2 separate regions of the Homo sapiens genome follow, and region 1 is linked to region 2. The links come from fine-mapping of genetic effects on gene expression. A gene starts in region 2. The other region holds a variant in brackets. All regions are shown on one strand. Distances are between the middles of the regions. Region 1 overlaps FAM81B (family with sequence similarity 81 member B). Region 2 holds the start of FAM81B (family with sequence similarity 81 member B).

Region 1 (5,394 bases), 23 kb after region 2:
CTAACAACAGTCATATGGGTATAATGTTATAAGTGGATGAACCATATTCATAAAGAAATAAGTCAAGATTCAAAATGTATAAATGCATAACACTATGGTAATTTTATGCAACCAGCTTTATAACTGTAGTCATCTGAAACACCATGACGATAACCTAAGTCTTTTGATAAGATTGATCCAAAACTTCAATGAGTCACTACGGCATATGCAATTGCACAAAGAGCTGAGATCTTAAGAAATTTTATCTTTCACAAATGCAGTTGTACAAAAAAGGACATCTCTTCATTTATTGGGGAAGTTTCAACATTTTTACATACACAATGCTTACACACAAAGTCAATGTTGTGATAATGCACTTTTGTGGAGTCAAATTGACAAAATATACATAAAACAAATTAGAACTTTCTGAAAGTCTTTATACAATTTATACTCCAGTACTGCAAATGATGTGAAGATGAAATACACAGCATAGCAAATTGTGAAAAGTAATAATAACAATGCTGACAATTTAAGATAGTGGGAAAGAACTAGAAAGAAAATTCAACGTTTGAAAAAGTATATTACAGGGATACATTATGGGCAATTGCCTGGAGGTAGTCCATTAGAGCTGGCCAACATTCACAGTCATATTTTGAAGTCTTGCATGGCAATGAATTGCTGCTTTTTTTTTTAAGACATGACTCTCGTCAGAGAATATGTTCACATTTCATTCCTTTTCCACATAGCACTGCTCTTTTTGAAATTCTTCTATGATTCGACATACACCAACATGAGCAATCCCTATTAAATATTTCCATCTTTGCATAATTTTTCTATGCTGTTTTCGGTACACAGAAATTCATTCCACATGCACTCATATGCAGAAGCAATACTGATAATCAAATAGTCACACTATTGTGTGTCTTCTTATCTTACTATGTGCATAATTATATTTGAACCAGTTGGTAACTTTGCTGGCTTCTTCAGGCAAATGTGGCTTTAATTCATTAAAATTTCCTAAAATGTCATTAGCTGGGAGGAATGCCACTGCAAACAAATGAAATATTTTTAAACCATATGGGGTGGCCAATTCACTTGTCTGAATTTTTCACCATATGCATTGGGCTGAATGACAAAAACAAATTTTATTGATGACACCTTGAGATTCACTTTTAGAAGCCTTGAAGGGACTTAATTCCAAATCTGTCATGGTTTGGGGATTCTACTAAAATCCATTTTCTTCTGCAAAGTCCACCAAATCTTCAAATAAATGTTTATAAAGTGCTTTACTTTTTCCAGTCATTAATATATAAAGAAGCAGGTAAGTTCAAGAATGTTTGGATCCAACTGGGGCATGATGGCATACAGTTGATAAGAAAGATGGGGACGATTTTCAAAGTGTCATTCCTCAGCCAAAGTGAAGGATGCACTAGGTTGTCTATGTTAGATTTAGTGGCAAATATAGGAAGTCTATCTTCTTTGACAGTCAAATCCCAAACTAAGAATATTTCATCACTCAATGAGTTTCAGAACACTGGAGGAACCTCTATATCGGCAAGCATCTTTGGTTCAGAATGTTGCTCAGCTTGTGGAATTCTTTTTATTCTCTGATGAAGAGTGTTTTTTGAAGGCAAGCATGGCACTATGTGTGAAGGGGCAGAAGTCATACATGATTGAATCATTTGACAGGGGACATTTGTTATATTTTTCACCTGTGTTTTTACTTTTTCTATGATTTTCGAAACACTCAAAACATTGAGAATAGATCTTTCTCACGTTGTGCACTCAGACTCACACACTAATCTCCTCTGGAAACACCCTCACAAGATACACTGCTACACCAGGTTCTAGGTATCCCTTAATCCAGTCAAGGGATTTTAAACTTTAGGAATTTCAATGTTTGAGATTATGTCTTTTGGGATTATGATTGGTACCATTCATGAACTAATTTCCTTAACTATGAAATTAGAATAATTCTGTTAGACAATATGAAAATGTACAATGTGAATCTCTAAGGGAGAGACATCATATGCAAGGTTTTCTAAGTGTATTTGATCATAGAATTCTTTTGTGGTGGCCTATCCTCCTGACTCCTATTCCAGGACTCACACCTTGGAAAACTCTCTAACACAGTCACTTTTGCATCTTTATAGTTATAAAAACTTAATTTTTTCTACGTTAAAGTAGAATTTTCATAAGGGGTATATAAAGGCGTCAGTCTTGGAAGAAGGCTTCTAACATCTTCTTTCATGAATGCCTCTACCCACTCCTAACTACCACCAATTGGCTTGAAGCATGAAAAGTGCATCTGCTTCTTAGATGAGACCTTCACCAAATTCTAACCATGGCAAGTGCTTAAAATCCTATCAAACTTCTCACAGGGCAAAAATAAAGGATCAGAAGTGAGGATTCTAGTTCTGGTTCCTGGCTCCTCCAGCTCATTCTTG[T/C]AATGCCCTGGTGTTTCCTTTTCCTTTTTCTGATCAGGAGTCATGCTTTTCTCCCCATCATTCCAAACACCCAGAGAGGTCAGCTAGAAGACAGACTGAACAACCAGGCGCGTACCATAGCTTTCCTTCTTGAACAAGCCTTCCGCATCAAGGAGGACATCTCTGCTTGCCTGCAGGGGACCCATGGCTTTCGAAAAGAGGAATCGCTCGCCAGGAAGTTACTGGAAAGCCACATCCAGACCATCACCAGCATCGTCAAAAAACTCAGCCAAAATATTGAGGTAGTTCTCTTTTTGTTTTATTTTGTTTTTGTTTTGTATTTTGGCAGCATTGCTTGATAAAGATTATCAACCATCAGTGTCATTTTTCAAGTGCAGAAATATATCACTATTGCTTAAGTTTAGATGATTACATTTTAGTGGTCTAAGAGGGAAACAGTTCAATTTTTCAGCTGTTCATTTATGCCAAAAAGTAGAAGGAACTTCTATTCAAAAAATATTTACTGTATATTTATTTTGTGACAACAAAGACATTATGTCAGACATTGTGCTAAGATGCTTATGTTAGCCTAAATCTCCAAGATTCTATTAATGCAATAACTTCAAATAGAGGTTTTCATAATGCACATCAGTAACGCTCCATTGTATAGCCATTGCAATCTGATGCCAGCAATTTCTCTAGCCCCGTCTTCTACCCTTCTTTCCTTCACTCTGGCCACACTGGCCTCCCAGCTGTTCCTAGGACATTCCAAACACATTCTGGCCTTGGGGTCTTTGCACTCATAATTCACTCTGGCTGGATCATCTTCCCCTAGATATTCCTATGCAACGTGCTTCATTCCTCCAGGTTTCTGTTCAAATATAGCCTCGTAACAGAGGATTTGCATGACATTTTATAAAATAGCACCTCTACCCACATGGTTTCAATCTCCCTTAAAGCCTACTTTATTTTTTTTGTCACATAGCACTCATTGCAAACTACCATGGTCTATATTTGATTCCTGTTTGTTTTCTCTTTCTAAGATATAATCTCTATAAAGTCAAAGAGTTTGTTTTCTTCATGCTAAATCCCATATCCCATACCAGACAACAGTGGTGTTGTAGTCAGCACTCTAAATATTCCTTAAATTGATGAATGAATAAATTAATTAATTTTAAGGCATTAGAGTAAAAATAGAGTTTCTCATCAAAAAAAGAAAATTCTTTGTCTAAATCAAGAGAAACATGCTTGTGTAAGAGGTCTTCGAGAGTTGCTAGGGTGCAGATGTACGTGATGAATCTGGGTTAACAATTTTCATGCAAGGGCTACAGATAGTGTACTTTAGGAAACTGGCCCAAAACTTGTGGAGTTATCATGAGAATTGACAACAATGCAGTCTCACGATACTTGTCCTTTTCTACTATCAAAGAGAATACTGGATTTTATTAAAATTATGGGATTGAACCAGCAATTACTCCTTTGTGAATTTGTTCTTAAGGGCAAGGATATTGATTAATTCATTTTCCATCTGCAGGGTTTAACAGACCCCATAATGTACCTGAGGCAGTGTGAAAAGTTAAAACTCTCAGTGAACTTTTAAAAAGCACTTTATTGGTATTTAGCACATTTTGAATTGACCTCAGTGCTTCAAAGGTCAATGCCACTCTCAAAGTGATTAAAGGTATTTCCATGCATAATGAAGTATCATGAAAGTGACAAGAGGCAAGCAGCCCTGTGCCTTTTGAAATGACTAGAAAATCAAGTAAGTACAGCATAGTGCTAAAATAAGATTCCAATTTAGGAGTCAAAACTTCTTGGTAATTGAAAAAGCCAACAACATTCTTAGAAACATTGAACTGTTTCTAAGAATATTCTATATTTTGATCTGGATTGTTATATGGTTGATTACATTACATTGAGTCAAGATCCGCCCAGATGTACACTTTGACTTGTGCGTTCAATACATATTATACCCCAGTAAAATACTATTAGCAATAAGGAGAAAGTCTTTCTTTCAAATCTCTAGAAATCTTGTAAACAGTTTATTTTTCTGTAATAATTGACTATCTTAGATTAGCTCTCTAAAAAAAGACAAATCCAAAACATTTTCCAAAAGACAAAGACAAAAATCTCAAAATACCTACAATCCTATTAAGGGTTTGGCATATATAGGAAAATGAAAAGGACTGGATTGAGTTTGTGGAAAATTGAACTAGAAAATATTTTAAAGGCTGTAGATAACATAGTTAAAACATTATGAAGAAGAAACTATTCAGCTACCTTTAGTAAATAACTATATGCACTTTATAGAGAAATGGATGCTATTCAAGTATTTTAAAAGAACCTAACCTCATTAACCAGGTCAGCCCATTTGCAAGTTGGCTATCAAGATCAATTCAAGTGTGAGCTAAAGCTTGACACAGGTCCATAAATGAAATGAAAAAAAAATTTTTTTAATCTACCACAATTGCATCAAAGTGCTTGTTTCTTTTTAAAAATCAAATGATTCCTTTTTTTAAGAAGGCAGTTGATTACAAGTTTTAGAATTAATTTATTTTTAACTCAAAGAAAATTTTATATATAGCATTGTTTTACTGTGGGTTTTCCCCTCAACTTACAAAAGCAATACTTGTTCATCATAATTATTTTGAAAGTTTAGGAAAAAAATGTTTAAACTTGGGGAAAAAATATCTCACAATTCAACCACCAAATGGTGATCTCTACAAATACCCAGATGAATCTCCCTTTAGTCCTTCCAAGTATTCCATTTAGGAGGCTGAGACTATGTTTGTAAGCATGATTTTTATTCTAACATTCATCCTAAACTCTATCATGTCTCATTAAAATCTCTTTGCATGGTGCATACACCATGATTTGCTTAATTATTGTCCTAATGTCGAAATATCACTTTGGGGGGCTGAGGCAGTAGGACCAATTGAGCCCAGGAGTTTGAGAACAGCCTGGGTAACATAGTGACACCCTGTCTCTA
Region 2 (5,394 bases):
TGACCTTCAACACTGACTATCCCCCATCACTGACCACCATGTCAGGATTATGTCTTTAGATCTATATTAAATATACTATAGTATAAGGCCACTTTAAAGATTGAAATTGAACATTTTTAATTTCTGTGCTTTTATTAGCCCTAGATTAGAAAAGATATATGAAGATTATTGACTTCTGAGAAGGATTTTACATATGCATTTTAGACAAGTGGGAAGCTATTTGAGTCCATCTTCTTCTGCTATAACAGAATACCATAGTCTGGGGCCTGGAATGGTGGCTCACACCAGTAATCCCAGCACTTTGGGAGGCTGAGATGGGTGGATCACTTGAGGTCAGGAGTTTGAGACCAGCCTGGCCAACATGGTGAAACTCCGTCTCCACTAAAAATACAAAAATTAGTCAGATATGGCAGTGCACACCTGTAGTCCCAGCTACTCAGGAGGCTAAGGCATGAGAATTGCTTGAACTTTGGAGGCAGAGGTTGCAGTGAGCCAAGATCGCACCACTGCACTCCAGGCTGGGCAACAGAGCAAGACTCTGTCTAAAAAAAGAATACCATAGTCTGGGCATTTATTTGGCTCATGGTTCCAGAGGCTGGGAAGTCCAAGATTGAGAGGATACATCTTTATATTACATCATAACATAGCAAGAAGGGAAATAAGAATGCAAGACAGAAAGAGATAAACTAAGCCAAACTCATCCTTTCTATCAGGAGCCCACTCCTATGATAACTAACTCATTCCCACAATAAGGGCTTTAATTCATTCATTAGGAGAGAGCCCTCATGACCTAATCACTTCTTAAAGCCTCCACTTCCTAATACTATTAGAATGGCAATAGGCCAGGCACGGTGGCTCACGCCTGTAATCCCAGCACTTTGGGAGGCCGAGGTGGGCAGATCACGAGGTCAGGAAATCGAGACCATCCTGGCTAACACGATGAAACCCTGTCTCTACTAAAAATACAAAAAATTAGCCGAGTGTGGTGGTGGGCACCTGTAGTCCCAGCTATTTGGGAGGCTGAGGCAGGAGAATGGCATGAATCTGGGAGGCCAAGCTTACAGTGAGCCAAGATCGCACTATTGCACTCCAGCCTGGGTGACAGTGCAAGACTACAACTCAAAAAAAAAAAAAAAAGAATGGCAATTACATTTCAACATGAGTTTTGGTGGAGAGATTCAAACCAGAGCAGACATTAATAATATACATATATATTATGTGCATTGTTATGTTAAAATTGAATAGCCATTTATGTTTAGAGAACAAACCTACCAAAATTGTCCATTTTAGTAGGGCCCATTTTTCTAACCAAATACCATGGATTAAAAGCTGAATTTAAGAAGAGAAAGAATCTTAAAAAGTTGTTAAGCAAGGTTAAATCTAGTTTTTCTTTCTCACACAGACTCTGCTTGTGACTGTTTCTTGGATAATTGGCACCTTGTGAAATAATCGCTAATAATAGTTATCTTTTAGTGGATTCCTGGCACCGCCCTCAGCTGAGCGCTGTAAGTATATTATTACATTTAATCCTCTCAACCATCTTATGGGATCGATATTATTAGCTCATTTCACAGAGGAGAAAGTTGAGGCTTAAAGAGGTGATGTAATTTTGTCCAAACTAAACAGCTGGTAGGTTGAGGAGTCAGGGTTCCAATCCACTCTCTCAGAATCTGTAGCCACCTGCTCTTAGTCACTGCTGTGTGTCAGTCTCCCTTGGCACTAGATACAATGGTGATTAGGGTAGCATAATGAGCCTTTTGGACTGCTTGCAAACCATGAACTACTGCATCTTTGAGTTTTAAGGGCTTAGCTTAGGACTAGGGGATATGCATGGAAGCCCAAATCATAGGTGTCCTTTATCTGTGGGATCAAAGTTTGTCACTCAGCATCCTGAACATTGTGTGCCTTTAAACAAGGCAAATCTGATACCATAATTTGGACAACAACTTAGCCAAAGCATCATTTCTGTATATGGAGGCCAAGTAGTACTAACAAACATGCAAATTCTAATTTTAAAACTCAGACAAACATTTTACAGCTAAAACAATCCACCCCCTTTTGGCTAAATAACTGAACAAAATTTCCCCTACAAAGGCAAAGTTCAATATTTTCATTTCTGTAAAACTCTGACCCATGTCACTTTTCATCAGTGCTGCACTATCTGTGAAGTCCCCTTCTAACCTAGAAGAGTTAGCTTCCTCCCTAACATACTTGGAGAAAGATTTGGGCATACCGCAGCATTTCATTTCCTCTTTGTCTAGCTTGATGATAACTCGTCACTTTTCAAACTGTGAAGATGAAATCAGGAGAAGAGTGTGAAATATCAGTATAACAATGGCCACTTCCCACCCCATGAGACAAAGAAGTGAAAGGCTTAGTGATTTGTATGATGATGAGCACTACAGAAAACATTCAAAGCTTCTAAATCCCAGGGATTTCCTGACTTCAGTTGTGAGGGCCAGCCACACTGACATCATAGATCCTTCCTGCAGTCACAATGCTACTAAGTCACCCTTGGGAAGAGGCCCCAGAAACAGGAAGACCTTAGTTAGGATGCAATTACAATTCCTTGGTACATTGGCTTCCTCAGAAAAAAGAAAAAAATCACAGAGATTGTTTTTCAAAAATATCAAATCTACAAAAAATAAAGCTGGAAAAGCAAGCATCATGAGTTCAGGTACTTATGGACTATTCGAGGTCTCTAAATTTCTCCTACTTCACTATCTTTCTTCTGTTTCTTATTACATATAAACAAAATAATGAATCCCAATGAAGACCCTCAGAAGGCTTGGGCACAACAGAGTAATAACTTAAACAAATGTACAAGAAAAAAAAACCCCATCAAAAAGTGGGCAAAGGATGTGAACAGACACTTCTCAAAAGAAGACATTTATGCAGCCAAAACATACGAGAAAAAGCTCATCATCACTTGTCATTACAGAAATGCAAATCAAAACTACAATGAGATACCATCTCATGCCAGTTAGAATAGTAACCATTAAAAAGTCAGGAAACAACAGATGCTGGGGAGGATGTGGAGAAATAGGAACGCTTTTATACTGTTGGTGGGAGTGTAAATTAGTTCAACCATGTGGAAGACAGTGAGGTGATTCCTCAAGGATCTAGAACTAGAAATACCATTTGATCCAGCAATCCCATTAATGGGTATATACCCAAAGGACTATAAATCATTCTACTATAAAGACACATGCACACGTATGTTTATTGCAGCACTGTTCACAATAGCAAAGACTTGGAACCAACCCAAATGCCCATCAATGATAGACTGGATAAAGAAAATGCCGCACATATACACCATGGAATACTATGCAGCCATAAAAAAGGATGAGTTCATGTCCCTTTGCAGGGACATGGATGAAGCTGGAAACCATCATTCTCAGCAAACTAACACAGGAACGGAAAACCAAACACCACATGTTCTCACTCACAAGTGGGAGTTGAACAATGAGAACACATGGACACAGGGAGGGGAACATCACACACTGGGGCCTGTTGGGGGTTGGGGGCTAGAGGAGGAATAGTATTAGGAGAAATACCTAATGTAGATGATGGGCTGATGGGTGCAGCAAACCACCATGGCACGTGTATACCTACGTAACAAACCTGCATGTTCTGCACGTGTATCCCAGGACTTAAAGTATAATTTAAAAAAAATACATTCCTGATTATTTTAGAGCTGTCTGATCCTAAAAAAGTTTCTAAAGGTCTTATAGAAGTATCTGTAAAGAAATGCTCTTCTAGCTAACTATAGATGTTATGGGGGGATGGGGGAGAATTGGGATAAGTGAGGAGAGGGGAAATGTAAAGCAAATTGAAAGCCTCCCTTTAAGCCAAGCTATATGTACAGAAACTGCCCTCAATTAAAAAAAAATTAGCAGCACTGCAAAAATTCACTTGTCATAGTTCCTGACCTGATTCAGCATTCTGGTTACCTAGATACAAATGTAAACAAAAGTGCCTCTCCAACTGCGACTGCAGAGGAACAGCCAGTTGAACCTGATGGCCCCCTTCCTGGCTCAGACAATAACCAAGAAAAGAAAGCAAGTACTTTTCAATATTCACATTAAAAGTAGAATACTTTGCTCAGCTTCTTTAAAGTTTAGAGTGCTTAGAGAGTTTAAGAAGTTCTGGAAGAATAGTTCTCCCACATTTCCTGTTTGTTCTGTCTTGGCAAAATGGCTGCTGAAAACACAAGCTGAAAAGAAAAATGACCTCAATTTACAATTTCATTAATTAGACTGATTTTTAATATATGGGGCTAAAATTCTTTTAAGTTGATCATTATGTATGTTTTATGATGATTCAAAAGGAACCATGATAAACTCAAGGTGCAGACTTTATCTTTATCTCTAACATGAAAACCGGTATAGCTAAATAGAATGTTTCCTTTATTAGAACTTGTCGTATCTTCTCCGTTAAAAAGAACATTTTTTAAAGCAGTGTTTTTAGACTTTTTTTGCACTTCTCTTAACACCTTGTAATTTACATAACAAGAGGCAGATGCAGTCACTTGTTACATAAAGCACTAGCACAATATCAAACATTGATTTTTGGTATGTATTATATAATAGGCTGTACCACATACTAGCTGTGGGACTTTGGAATGATTACTTAACCTCTGTTTCTTCTTCTGTAAAATGGGTGAATTAGGCTTATCATACAAAGTTATTGTGGGTTTGAATGAGTCACTTAAGTAAGTGCTTAGCAAGTAGGAAGGGCTACAGTATGATTATCATCATCATCTACATGATCTTGGGCAAGTCCCGTACTTCTCTGATCCTGAAGCTCCTCACCTATAAAAAATAGTCATCTTAATTTCTTTCCATAATAAGGGTTTCAGCTTCTTAAGGTAACTAATGTCATCCTTACACTAATGGGAAGGTAATGATATCCACTTTATAGGGCATTCATGTCAAATAAAATTATGTCATATACAAGAACGTATTTCATAGCCCATAAAACCAAAAAGCTATAACATTCAAAGCATTATTATGAAATGGATAAAACTGATATATGTAAAAAAATTCCCATAGTGGCCATCAAGTTGTTTGTGAGACAGTTTTTATATATAATAACATCCTAGCTTATAGGAATGAGGATAAAACAGAACTGACTCTTATGTTCAATTAGCAAAGATATAAAAATTTAAATACTGTCTTAGATACCTAAAAATTACATTTAAAAAATTGCACCAAAAGCCAACATCAGTGGCTTTTGTTCTAGGTAGCAAAATTACAAGCGAGAATTTTTATTCTGTATCTTTAACTTTTCTATACTTTTCCAAATATTCCTCCATTGTTATGCTTAACATTTGTCACTTAAATAGTGTGTGTTGTAGGTGTGTTTTTAAGAAGATGCTACTTGTGGTCTTTC

Evidence for each region.
Region 1: its variant is fine-mapped to the expression of FAM81B in whole blood (TOPMed, PIP above 0.99). The same link has a PIP of 0.9 or more in blood mononuclear cells.

The regions. Positions count from the first base shown.
Region 1 is chr5:95,411,484-95,416,877 of GRCh38, forward strand. FAM81B (family with sequence similarity 81 member B) reads left to right here. Exons shown (of 10, transcript NM_152548.3): 4 at 2,464-2,707. Among named protein-coding and RNA genes, the nearest start is that of FAM81B, 23 kb to the left of the region's middle. The variant T/C (reference allele first, on the strand shown) is at 2,427.
Region 2 is chr5:95,388,837-95,394,230 of GRCh38, forward strand. It overlaps FAM81B (family with sequence similarity 81 member B), which reads left to right and starts at 2,530. Exons shown (of 10, transcript NM_152548.3): 1 at 2,530-2,677; 2 at 3,958-4,061. The coding sequence starts at 2,554. It overlaps LOC105379089 (a long non-coding RNA gene), which reads right to left and starts at 2,336. Exons shown (of 3, transcript XR_948586.1): 1 at 2,234-2,336. RefSeq lists an enhancer at 3,690-4,547.